Regions from separate parts of the Homo sapiens genome. Here all the other regions are linked to region 3. The links come from fine-mapping of genetic effects on gene expression. A gene starts in region 3. Each other region holds a variant in brackets. All regions are shown on one strand. Distances are from middle to middle.

Region 1 (4,153 bases), 13 kb before region 3:
GCGAAACCCTGTCTCTACTAAAAATACAAAAATTAGCCGGGCATCATGGTGCATGCCTGTAATCCCAGCTACTCAGGAGGCTGAGGCAGGAGAATCACTTGAACCTGGGAGGCAGAGATTGCAGTGAGCCATTGCACTCACTGCACTCCAACCTGGGCAACAGAGTAAGATTCCATCTCAAAAAAGAAAAAGAAAAAAAAAGAGTGTTTTCAGTTTAGGAAAAAAAAAAAATCTGTTATAGTCATTGGTATAGAATTAGAGGCCCAGACTCATTTTCCTACCCCCACCCCTTAGTCCTTTGATCTTCCCAAATGATCGTGGTTCCCATGGGTGTGGCTAAGAGGGAGTGTTGGGGACCAGTCTCAACACCACCCATAGGGTACCCAAAGTCTGGTGGTGACAAAGGAATGAGAAGAGACAGGTTAAGAGTTCATAAAGGTGGGAGCCAGGGGGCCAGTTGCAAAATGGAGGCTGCAAAAGGCCCAGAGTTCTGGTTCCACACTATTTATTGAGTACAATCACTTCGATCTAAGAAGCAGATGTTCAGGGTGAAACAGTGAAAGGGAGGCACTGCGTCACAGGCGTAATCTATAGCAATAGCGGTTTAAATGAATCTCCTTTGTGCTCAAACAGCGTATCTTTAACTTATCGGAGAGGAGCTAGTGGGAGTGTGCTTAACTAGGAGGCTGCACGTCTGTCCACATTCCAATGCTTCAAAGGAGTGTCTTTCTCCTTGAACACAGTGTTTATAGATAAGAGAGCAGGTCTCGCTCTGAGCATGGGAACATGATGGCAATTAGGAGGCTTTCCTCCTCAGAGGCCTCTTGTGGCTTTCCACAACTTATTGTCCCATATTTTTATGGCCAGTTTATGCAGGCGCCCCACAAGCCCTTTTCCCAACAGGGAGGAAGGTGCGATGGAGGGCTGGAAGCATGCTTTTCCGGCATTCCCTATAGAACATTCCCAGCCAGACCTGCCTGATGAGAAGGCAGAGGATTGACCAGACCTCAGGGTGTGTCTTCACAGGCACTCCAATGCCCCTGACCTGGCCAGCCGTTCCTCTGCCTGGAGTCACTCTTCGGGCTGGAGTTACATGTAAGGGCATTGTTTCTAGAACCCACTCAGGCTCTCCCCTGGCCTACCCACCAGTGCACCCACAGGAGTCAGCCCAGCAGGCGGCACAAAGCCCTTCTCAACAGAGGTGCTAGCAGGCGCAGGAGCAAGGCTGGGACCCCTCAAGCCTGGGAAGCTGGAAGGGGGAAGCAGGTCAAGGACAGTTAAGTAAGAGATGGGAAAAGTAGTTGCCTTCCAGAGGAGTGGAGAACCAGGGGGCCTCTGCCAGTGACTGCAGCGAACATCAGAGACCCATGGGAGGGAACACTGCAAGGACGGTGGACTTCTCTCTCTCTCTCTCTCTCTCTCTCTCTTTCGTATTTAACTGATGAGGCACTTGGTAAGGGGTTGCCAGGGAATGGGTTGCTGGAAATGAATCCAGGTCTTCGATTCCCAGCCCAGTGCATTGCTTTTTTTTTTTTTTTTTTTTTTTCTGGGAGACAGGGTCTCACTCTTTTCGCCCAGGTGTGCAGTGCCTCACTGCAGCTGCAGCCTCAACTTCCTGCGCTCAGATGATTCTCCCACCTCAGCCTCCTGGATAACTGGGACTACAGTCATGGGCTACCATGCCTGGCTAATTTTTTGTAGAGACGGGGTTTTGCTGTGTTGCCCAGGCTGGTCTTGAACTACTGGACTCAAAGTATCCACCCACTTCAGCCTCCCAAAGTGCTGGGATTACAGGCATGAGCCACCACGCCTGGCCCCCAGTGCATTGTTATGGCAATTTTCTTTCTCTCTTCCCTTCTCCAGAATTCTATCCAGGGCCAACCCGTCAAAACATATTGAAAATGGAGAGAAAACAGAGCTCAAGTAATTTGGAGTGACATGGAGGCATGATCACC[T/C]CAGTATAAAGGTCCTTAGCATCCCAAATCAGGAGCTATCAAACCTATAGGACTCACAAAAAGGTAAACTAAGGTCCAGAAATCCACTCCAAGAAGCATAATGGCCAGTCTAGATTTTACACTAGATCAGTCCTGCTTCACATGTCTCCCGGCTGGCCAGCCCCGGATGTCCGGCCACTGTGAGCCGATAGCTTTTCTGCTGTTTGTTTTCTACCTGTGTGCAGGTGAGCAGAAGTAGGAGCAAAGCCTCCTCCCATCAACCAGCAACCACCCCTACCTTGCTTCTTCGTGGCCTTCCCTCTCCCCACCTTCCATGGCCTCTAGCTCAGGTAGCCAGAATTAATTACTGGTGGGGTTGAAGCCATAACTTGTTCCCTGGCTGTAGGCCAGGCTCTCAAGATGTGCGTCAGAAAGGCCAGTGAGTGAAATTCCAAAGCAGTGTGAGTCACCAGGGGCTGAGAAGAACAGGCCAGGACAATAAGAGCAGGATGTGGACCAAAATAGTGCCCTGAGGGCCAGGGGCTGGGCCAGGCATCAAGAATGCTCACCTGGCCAAAGATGGGGAACAGGGCCTCCGGTCTAGGTGGTTTATCTCTGTGCTCTGCACAGCCCTGGACGGGGAACAAAGCCTCTGGCCCAGGGTTTATCTCTGGGCTTTGCACAGCCCTGGAGGAGGAGGGAACTGACCAGCAGGCCGGCCCCCTGGTCACAGGAATCATGTCCTTCACCTGCCTTCCCATAAGCTGGACTTTGGATCCCAGCCCTTAAAACCCTTGTGTTGTTTCTTCCTGCAGACCTGGTCGAGAACACTACTTCAGGACAGGGAATAGTGACAGGCCAGCAGAGCCCCAGAGGCGAGGTGGCAGGTAAGTCTACAATCCTTGGGCCCTTGCTCTGTGCCCAGGGAAAAGAGAGGGATCTCCAAGCCCTGGCTTCTCTAACCTATCTTCACCTGGTCACTCACAGCACTGCACAATTTCCAGTTCTCAGAATCAGATTTCTTCCAAAGGAGGGATGTGTGAAGGGAGCACGAGGGGTGGGGGCAATCAGCAATCAGGAATCTTCCCCATCAAGGTGCGGTGGCCCCTGGACTGTGGCCCAGCAGCAACCTGTGGCAGCCAGATCTGGGGCAGGAGGTGGAGGGCTTCCACTCGTCATGAGGGTGTCCAGGGGGAGTGTCACCAGTCGCCATGTGCCAGCGGCAGGCCTGGATGCCACTCTCTCCTTGTGACCCTGGCCAGGACGGAACGGAAGGCCCCCAAGATCAAGTAGATGACACTGCACCCCACCCCCCACAACCCACTGAATCCTATCCATCCAGAGGGGTCACTGGCCAAGGGGAACACAGGAACAGCTTGTGATAAAGGGCCGCCTAGGCCCTCATGCCCACTCTATCTCCTGCCCCTCCCCAACTGAAGGCTGCTCTCCAGCATCTCTGTTGTCCTGCTCCTTCCCCTTTTTTTTTTTTTTTTTTTTTTTTGAGATGGAGTCTCACTCTGTCACCCAGGTTGGAGTGCAATGGCGCAATCTCGGCCCACTGCAAACTCCGCCTCCCGAATTCAAGTGATTCTCCTGCCTTAGCCTCCCATGTAGCTGGGATTACAGGGGCCTGCCACCATGCCTGGCTAATTTTTTTGTTTTTTTAATAGAGACAGGGTTTCAGCATATTGGCCACACTGGTTTCGAACTCCTGACCTCAAGTGACCCGCCCACCTCGGCCTCCCAAAGTGTTGGGATTACAGGCGTGAGCCACCGCACCTGACCTCCTTCCCCCTTTTCTTACTACTCACTCCCACGTCCTGGGTGGCCCATTCATGGCTCCACCCAACTCTGGGAGCTCCCCATCCTTCAGGCAGCAGGATCCATTTATCAAGAGAAACTGAGCAGCATCCCTAATCCTCTCCCTCTCTTGCCCTCAGCCCCCCAAATTTTGTTCCTTTCTGTAGCCACACTTGGCCAGGAGCTCTCAGGCTTACTGTAGGAATTCCTTCCAGGGCAACAGAGACCCCCAACCACTCCCCCACCCACAACCCAGCCAGGCTGCTGTCACTTCCTCGCAAAGGAGTAGCTGAATGGGTCACCCTGGCTTTTGGAAGGGTTGGGGCTGAGACAGATGCTAGCGAGGCTATGATAACTCAGACAAGGGGCTGAGGCTGATAGCCTCCACCGACACAGGTGGAGAAGGGCACGGGCTCTGC
Region 2 (4,153 bases), 130 kb before region 3:
CATAGTTACAGATCTCCTTTTAAACAGTCACCTCTGTGCATGCACAGACCGTAGGCAATAGGATCTAGCCCAGCCCGGCTGGCAGGGGTCCAGGGTAGATTTGGCTGTTTGATAAGTGGCTGCCGACAGAGTTGAAGCCACTGCCCCAGATGTTGGGGGTTGGGTCCCCCTCTGTTTAGCTGCCTTGTCAGTAGAGAGGGAAGACAGACCATGAGGAGCCATTGTGAGCATCTTTGCAGGTCAGAAATGTCTATGCTTTTGCTGCTGGAGACGGGAAAACACCCCCCTGGTTTTCTCTTCTTACTGCTTTTTAGTAGTGAGCAGTCAAGGTGTTTGGGGATTTGTCTTTGTGATTGTCTCTTCAGTGTGATTTTTGGTAGCCTGGATTTGTTCGCCTGCTTTCAAGCCTCCAGGGAGTCTCAGAAAAGCTGCTTTCCTCTGGGTGTGCCCGGTGTGTGTGCTGCCTGCCTGCATTCTCTCCAACTCCCCAGTAAGTCCTGGGTAGAGGTAGGGGTGGGAGGAATTGGGTTTTATTTTTCCTTTTTATTCCCCACAGAACTCAGCCCAATTTCATATACACAAACAACCCTGAACTCTAAACCCATCTGCCCAACATCTGTGTGCCTGACCTCTCCAGCAGGATGTCAAACAGTGTAAACAAAACATGTCCCCCTGACCCCTAAACCTGCTCCTATCCCTCTCAACTAATGGCAACTACGTCCTTCCAGTGGCTCAGGTCAAAAATTTTTGCATCATCTAGGATTCCTCTTTATCTCACCCCCATATCGAATCTAGCAGGAAATGCTGTTGGCTCAATATCTGACCACGTCTCACCGACTTCACCTCCTCTGTCATCTCCTACCTGGATTATCACACTTAGCCTCCTTCCTTCCTTCCATCTGGGCATCCTGGGCAGCCTGTTTTCAACATGGTGGCCAGAGAAGTCGTGTTCAAACCTAAGTGAGGTCATCTCGCTCCTCTACTCAAATCCTTCCCATGGCTCCCCATTTCTCTCTGAGCAAAAGCCACCAGACCCTACAGGATCTGCAGATACCACCCCAAAATCATCCTACATCTTTCTCCTCCACGCTACTCATTCCAGCCACACTGGCCTCCTTGCAGTTCCTTAAACACACCAGGCACTCCCCTGCCTCATGGCCTTTGTACTGGCTGGCCCCTCTGCCTTCTTTCTCTGCCTTCTTGGTTCCATCTTCATCCTCTTTGCTTAAATATCCCTTTCTCAGTGAAGTCCACTCTGCCATCCTATTTATGTTGTAAATGTCCCCTGTGCCAGTGCCTCTTGTCTCCCTTGTTCTGCTCTTACACTGGACTGGGTTCCAGATCGCTGTATGGTATACTTGTGTATGTTTTTCCCTATATATATTTATGTTTGTTTATTTATTTTTGTGTATGTCTCCCCTACCAGAAAGTGAGCTCCACAAGACTTGGGGCTTTGTCTCGTTCCTTCACAGATGCGTCCTCAGGACTTAGTGCCGGGCACAGTGCAAGTGTTTAAAGAATAAACAAATGTGGGTTCAAAGTGAAAGGTGGTTACAGGCTCATGGACTTTCCCCAGGAAGCCATGCTCCCCCATAGCTGCTCTTGTTTTGGGCACCTCTTTCATAAGGAGCTGTGAATCTGCTGGACACACAAGAAGAGGGAACAAAACTGAAGGAGGCCACAGACTGGGAGAAAATACCCATGGAAAAAGACATACTTGATAA[T/C]GGACTGGGATCCGAAACATACAAAGAACTCTGAAAACATAACCATAGGAAAATGAATAACCCAATTAAAAAATGGGCAAAAGATCTGAACAGACACCTCACCAAAGAAAATATACAGGTCCCAAAGAAGCATATGAAAAGGTGCTCATGATATGTCACTAGTGAATTGCAAATTAAAACAACAATGACATACCACTATACACCTATTGGAATGGCCCAAATCCAGAACACTGACAACATCAAATGCTGATGACGATGTGGAGCCCTAGGAACTCTCATTCATTGCTGGTGGGAATGCAAGATGAGACATCTGCCTTCAAAGACAGTTTGGCAGTTTCTCACAAAACTAAGCATACTCCTAGCATACAATCCAGCAGTTATGCTCCTTGATATTTACCTAAAGGACTTGAAAACTTAGGTTTCAAGACACAAAACCTGCACCAGCCAGCCTGGAACAAATCCAGGCTTCACACAAAAACCTGCACACAGATGTTTATTCATAATTGCTAAAACTTGGAAGCAACCAAAATGTCAATGAATGGTTAAATGCACCATGGCACATCCATGCAATGAAATATTATTCAGCACTGAAAAGCAATGAGCTACCAAGCCATGAAAAGACGCAGAGGAATCTTAAATGCATATTACTAAGTGAAAGAAGCCAATTTAAAAAGATTACATGCGGTAGGATCCTAACTATACAACATTCTCAAAAAGGCAAAACTATGGAGATAGTAAAATATCAGCAGTCGCCAGGGGTCAAGAGTGAGGGAGGGGATGACTAGGTGGAGCATAGAGGATTTTTAGACAGTGAAATTGCTCTGTATGATATTACAATTGTGGAGACTTGTCATTATACATTTATCTAAACCTATAGAATGTACAACACCAAGAGCGTAACCTAATGTAAAGTATGGGCGTTGGGTGAGAATGACATGTCAATGTAGGTTCCTCAAATGTAACAAATGCACCCCTCTGGTGGAGAATGTTGATAGTGAGTGGTGGGGAGTGGGGGAATGGGAGGAGTCAGGGGTGTATGTGGGAACTTTCTGCAGCTTCTGCTCAGTTTTGCTGGGGACCAAAAACTGCTCTAAAAAGTAAAGTCTATTGAGAAAAAGTTGAATGGGCCACAGGTCTTTTCAAACAGTAGATCTGCAGGCTCTAAATGGCTACTTCTCACCTATCCAGAGAAGCCCTTGGGACCTCTGCCAGAGAAGGGGTTTTGTTTTGGAGCAACCCTCACCTCAAGATTCTCAGGATCAAAGATGGCCATTGATGAAGGTGGAAAGGGAACGTTCTGGAGGATCCTCTACAGATGCACTTGGACTTGTTTCTTTCCTGCTCAACCCAGGAAAATAAAAGAAAGACTTCCTATTGCTACGCCTGACCCCCAATCCCAAAGTTGGGTGAAGCAGGATCCTTTAATCCACTGAAATGCTGCTGGGCCCTGGGGGTGAGGGGTCGGGGGTGGGTGGAAAAAGAAGCAGGAAGAGCTGGGATAGGTGACCCCGGAAAGCAGGAGCAAGAGTCCAGCCTCTGTCTAGAAGCGAACATCAAACAACCTACTGGTTTCTCTCTGACAGCAGTTCTGTCCTAAGGACAGTTCCCCTCTAGGCTTGGGCCCACATTTTGCACCCCCATCACTGTTGTGGGAAATGTAGTTTCATTTCTGCCCATGGGCACTAAAGGACCTAGGAAGACCTCTCTGGAATAATAATAGTCACTACAGATTTAGCTCCTCGTCCTGTACTAAGAGATTTACATCTATTATCATAATTAGTCCCCATAACATTCTTTTTTTTTCATTTTTATTTCTATTTAAATAGGTTTTAGGGTACAGGTGGTTTTTGGTTACATGGTTAAGTTCTTTAGCAGTGATTTCTGGGATTTTTTTTTTTTTTTTTTTTTAAGACCGAGTCTCACTCTGTTGCCAGACTGGAGTGCAGTGGTACGATCTTGGCTCACTGCAACCTCCAACTCCCTGGTTCAAGCTATTCTCCTGCCTCAGCCTCCTGAGTAGCTGGGATTACAGGCACGTGCCACCATGCCCAGCTAATTTTCGTATTTTTAGTAGAGATGGTTTTCACTATGTTGGCCAGGATGGTGTTGATCTCCTGACCTCCTGATCCACCCGCCTCGGCCTCCCAAAGGGCTGGAATTACAGGTGTGAGCCACCGCGCCTGCCCTGATTTCTGGGATTTTAGTGCACCTGTCACCCAAGTAGTGTATGCTGTACCCAGTATGTAGTCTTTTATCCCTCACTCCCAACCTCCCCCCGCAAGTCCCCAAAATCCATTATATCACTGTTATGCCTTTGCATCCTCATAGTTTAGCTCCCACTTATAAGTGAAAACATATGATATTTGGTTTTCCATTCCTGAGTTATTTCACTTAGAATAATGGCCTTTAGCTCCATCCAAGTTGCTGTG
Region 3 (4,153 bases):
AGCTTACAGTCCGAGCAGCCACCCTCTCCTGCTTCATGACTTTGGGTGGACGGGAGTTCTGTCTTCCTACTCCTTGCTCCACAGGGGCTATGGTCCTGCCAGGACAGGTGAAAGGTGATGTCAACTGGCATCTGGCATTCAGCTGGTCTCTGGAGGTGGGTGGAGGGAACAGGGTGTCCGTGGGAGAGACCCTGGCCTGCCGTGGGAATCATGCAGAGATCTCAAGTTATGATTTTCTCTGGCGCAGGGGCTCTTTGGCACACAGAAGATGGGGTAAGTCTCTTCAATGCCAAACATGTGGAGGAAGAACATGTGTGAGCATGGTTTACTTTCTCTCCTAAATATGTATTCAAATAAGTACTTTCTGGTTTATGGAGGGTGAGTTCTAACCAGAAATGAGAAGTAAGTAGCACTGTCAGTCATTGTTAACCTCTTGGCTAGCTCTGAGTAGATTGAGAAAGGGGTGGGAGAAGCATCCTCCAACAACCGAGCACTTCCTGTACATTGACCAGGTAGGTAGGCACGTTGATCACAAACACCTTGAGGGACAGCTTCCAAGTATATGCATTCACAGATGAGAAGCATGCTTCAGACAACACAAAATTCATTTTTAACCCGGCTTTCTTTTGGCAGTAAATTTCTCTTCCTAATCATATTTTGCATAAACTAATATTAGAGTGGATTTGCATTTTCAGAGCACAAGATGGAGGAGTGGTGGAGGCGGTTCAGGTGGGTGGCAGGCTGGTCTGGGCTTTAAAAATTGTCCAGAGGTAACTGAGGAGATGAATCAAACCAGACTGAGCTGACTACTTAACACTAGCAGTCAAGATCATCCTGGCTGGGCATGGTGGCTCACGCCTGTAATCCTAGTACTTTGGGAGGCCAAGGCAGGCAGATCACCCGAGGTCAGGAGTTCGAGACCAGCCTGGCCAAGGTGGTGAAACCCCGTCTCTACCAAAAATACATAAATTAGCTGGGAATAGTGGCGTGCACTTGTAGTCCCAGCTACTCGGGAGGCTGAGGCAGAACTGCTTGAACCCAAGAGGCGGAGGTTGCAGTGAACCAAGATTGCACCACTGCACTCCAGCCTGGGCAACAGAGGGAGACTCAAAAAAAAAAAAAAAAAAAAAAGATTATCCTGATAAAACCAGCCTTGAATATGGAAAGTGTCTTCTAGGGACCCCTCAGGTTATAGATGTTATACCTTAGAATCTCTCTATTTTACAGAGGGGTAAATTGAGGCAGAAAACCCAAAGAAGGCTTAGGGACGATTTTCGAGGCTACTCACTTCATGGTGTTTCTTTCAGAGATTAGCAGCTATTACTGAACTCCAGGAGGCAACAGGAGGGGGATGGGATGGAGGTGGGGACCCGCTGAAGAAGGCCTAGGTGGGAGACAGGTAACGTGGTACAGGTACCCACCCCACAACTCATTAAGGGCCATGGAGGGAGGAAGGCTCTCAAGTGCCACGAAAATTCCCAAAGCAGCAGAGGGCTTGTATGGAAACGCCGGTTATTCGTCCCTACCCGGCCCCCGCCCCCCGCCCCCCCGACTGCCCCTGCCGTCGCCTCCCCGTGGGCAAGTGGTGGGGGCCTGGGCTTACAACCACACGTTCTCCTCCAACTAGCATCCCTTCCAGGGTGCACTAGGATGCCTCTCAGAGGTTCTCCCCCGCCTCCCGAAGGAAAGGGGAAAACCCCGTGGGCGTCCGGAGAGCCTTTGCGCCTCGCCAGGTGGAGGGACCGGCGCCACCCAGACCCGCGAGCCGAGACCCTCCCCGCGGCGTCGCTGCGGGAGGGGCGGAAGAGCGCGGGCGGTGGGCGGGAGCGGTGCTGCGAGGCGGGATCTGCGGGGCGTCCAATCCCCTTCTTCCCCCGCCCGCCCCCTCCCCGCCCCCCGAACGCTTTCCACCAACTGCGCGCGGCAGTGGGCGGGGCCCGTCACGGCTGTCGTCTTGGGTGCGATTTTTTTCTCCTCCTTTTTTTACCCTCCCGTTTTTTTCTTTTCTTTTTTTTTTCCCTATCCTTTTTTTGTGAATGAAAAAAGGAGGTCGCGAGCGGTACCTGGGACTGCAGCGCCAGGCGTCTTCGCGGCAGCGCCTTCGCCGCGGGCCCGGGCGCGTAGCGGCGGCGGCCTCGCCCCTCTCCCGGCGCCCCTGCGCGCCGCCCGCTGCCTCCGCAGCCCGGCTCCGCGCGCCGCCGTGACATTGGGCGCCTGGCGCGCGGGGCGATGCTGATCCGGAAGGGGCAGCGGCTGCAGTGCAGCGCGCGCGTCCGCTCCTGGGCCCACGTCCGGCCTGGGCTGCCCTGCCGGAGTTTCTGAGTGGCCGCGAGCTGGCCGGGAGGCTGGAGCCCAGCAGCAGCGCGGCGGCGCCGGCGTCGTCCCAACTTGCAGGCGCGGAGGGACCCCTGACATTTCACTAAAATGAGCGTGCTCAGCAGGAAGAGATGTGTTCCTCACGCTAGAAGCCACCCCGTCACATGTAGTGGTGTAAGTAGATGGCTGCTTGCGGTTATGGCGGGGTGGCCAGCAGCCCTTGCAGACGCGCCGCTCCGCCCTCCCTGCCCTGCCGCGCCCCTCGCTACGTTCCCCGGGCCCCGCTAGTCCCTGGGCTCTGGCTTCGGCTGCTGGGTACAGCGGGGCTGGAGCCTAATCCTTTCCGGTGTTTCTAGGGAAAGGAAGATGACTTGATTGCTTCGGCCTGTCGTGCCCCTCCCCCTTCTCGATGTTTAAAAATTTTTAAATTTCTATTTTGTGTGTGTGCAGAGTAGCGTGTCAGAAAAAAGGAAAAACGGTCCAGAGTGGTGGGAGTGATTCTGTTAAGAAAACAAACACAAAACAACAGTGGAATTGGGGTGTTTTGCTGGCGGTTCCGGAGCTGGTTCTTTGAACTCAACTCCATTGCAGTCTATGTAACTGAGTTCTGTGAAACTACTGGGGAGATCTTTGGCGGTGTTTGGTGATGTGTCCACATTTTAGGTTTGAGGGGGCTTATCTGTGTTTAGGCTTGCATTTCTTTAATCTGACCATTCAGGGTCCCTTTGGGCCTTGCTTTCTGTTGGATCTGCACGGGGCTTCTTGCAATGCCAGCGACCCCCGTGGGAGCCTCCCCGAATTAGGAGTCCACTCTCTCTTTGTTCTTCTCCTTCCAATTCTCCATTCAATCCATCTCCCTTGATTTTACCTTCATTTTCAGGATTTTCCTCCCATTCCCATTTTGTAAGATGATGTGGGATACTGGTTGCTAGGAGACAAGCCAGGCTCCCAGGGAGATTCTGTTGTTTCCTTGACAACCAGACTAGGGCAGCCACAGATGAACAAGCCTCCTATCAGCTGTGGGAGGGAAAGGGGCCCTTTCTGAGCTCTGCAAAGAGTGTGTGTAGGGGTGTGGGGGTGGGACTGGGAGAGCACGAGGTTTGTAGCTAATTTCAGCACACCTTGGGTTTTGGCTTGCACCAAGTACAAAGAGCTGGGAGAGCGGTGGGCAGGAGGCTGTTTTTGGAGGGGCACAGGGATCATGGGACAGGGATGGAAGGAACACATGCCAGTGACTTTGCGATTGTCATGGAAGAGGAGTGAGTTGGGGGTTGTGATGCCCAGGGCTGGGTGGTGAGGAGGTCATAGTTTATGGAGGTTGATTGAGTGGGGATGAGGCAATTGTGAGGGAGAGTCTGGAGTCAGGGAAGAAGAGAGAGCCGGAGGGAGAGGGGAAGCTGAGAGGCTCACTGAATGGGCTGTATCACCATATATCAGCAATGAGTGGGCTGTATCACCATACATCAGCAATGATACAACATCAGCAACATCCTAGGGCAAAAATTATATTACTCTTGGCACACTCTCTCCAGGACAGGATCCTCCTTTAAGACAGGCCTGATTAGACTAAGAGTTCTAACACTTGAATTGGGCCAGTCTGTATCTTAAAGACAGATATAATTACACATATAGATATGCAATCTAGCATTATATAATACCACATTACATAAGAAGACAAATACCTCCTTTCAGCCCAGCCTCTCTTGGCACAAATTAACCACGGTTCAGGAGACTCTTCCAATGTCTTCATACCCATTTCCCAGAGGGGGAGACTGATGCCCAGAAAATATAAGTGACTTGCCTCTTCCTAGATAGGACAGTGAAGTTTGCCAGTCAG

Which allele goes with the higher level. Alleles are on the strand shown, and positions count from the first base shown. SD is a standard deviation of normalised expression in the study named.
As copies of T replace C in region 1, the expression in lung of the gene that starts at base 2,190 in region 3 goes up (small effect, 0.26 SD a copy in GTEx).
For the expression in testis of the gene that starts at base 2,190 in region 3, C is the high allele of the variant in region 2 and T is the other (small effect, 0.25 SD a copy in GTEx).

What was found. PIP is the estimated chance that this variant, and not a neighbour inherited with it, causes the effect. A credible set is the group of variants that fine-mapping cannot tell apart.
Region 1: its variant is the best candidate, but not a certain one, in a credible set for the expression of RHOBTB2-AS1 in lung (GTEx, PIP 0.76).
Region 2: its variant is the best candidate, but not a certain one, in a credible set for the expression of RHOBTB2-AS1 in testis (GTEx, PIP 0.89).

The regions. Positions count from the first base shown.
Region 1 is chr8:22,984,743-22,988,895 of GRCh38, forward strand. All of the region lies in intron 1 of RHOBTB2-AS1 (RHOBTB2 antisense RNA 1), which reads right to left. It also overlaps a transcript of RHOBTB2 not described here. Among named protein-coding and RNA genes, the nearest start is that of RHOBTB2, 13 kb to the right of the region's middle. RefSeq lists an enhancer at 2,950-3,706. The variant T/C (reference allele first, on the strand shown) is at 1,956.
Region 2 is chr8:22,867,942-22,872,094 of GRCh38, forward strand. All of the region lies in intron 3 of PEBP4 (phosphatidylethanolamine binding protein 4), which reads right to left. Among named protein-coding and RNA genes, the nearest start is that of PEBP4-AS1, 8.0 kb to the right of the region's middle. The variant T/C (reference allele first, on the strand shown) is at 1,725.
Region 3 is chr8:22,997,616-23,001,768 of GRCh38, forward strand. It overlaps RHOBTB2-AS1 (RHOBTB2 antisense RNA 1), which reads right to left and starts at 2,190. Exons shown (of 2, transcript XR_007060857.1): 1 at 2,064-2,190. It overlaps RHOBTB2 (Rho related BTB domain containing 2), which reads left to right and starts at 1,933. Exons shown (of 10, transcript NM_015178.3): 1 at 1,933-2,490. RefSeq lists silencers at 1,613-1,872, 2,093-2,262, 2,593-2,642.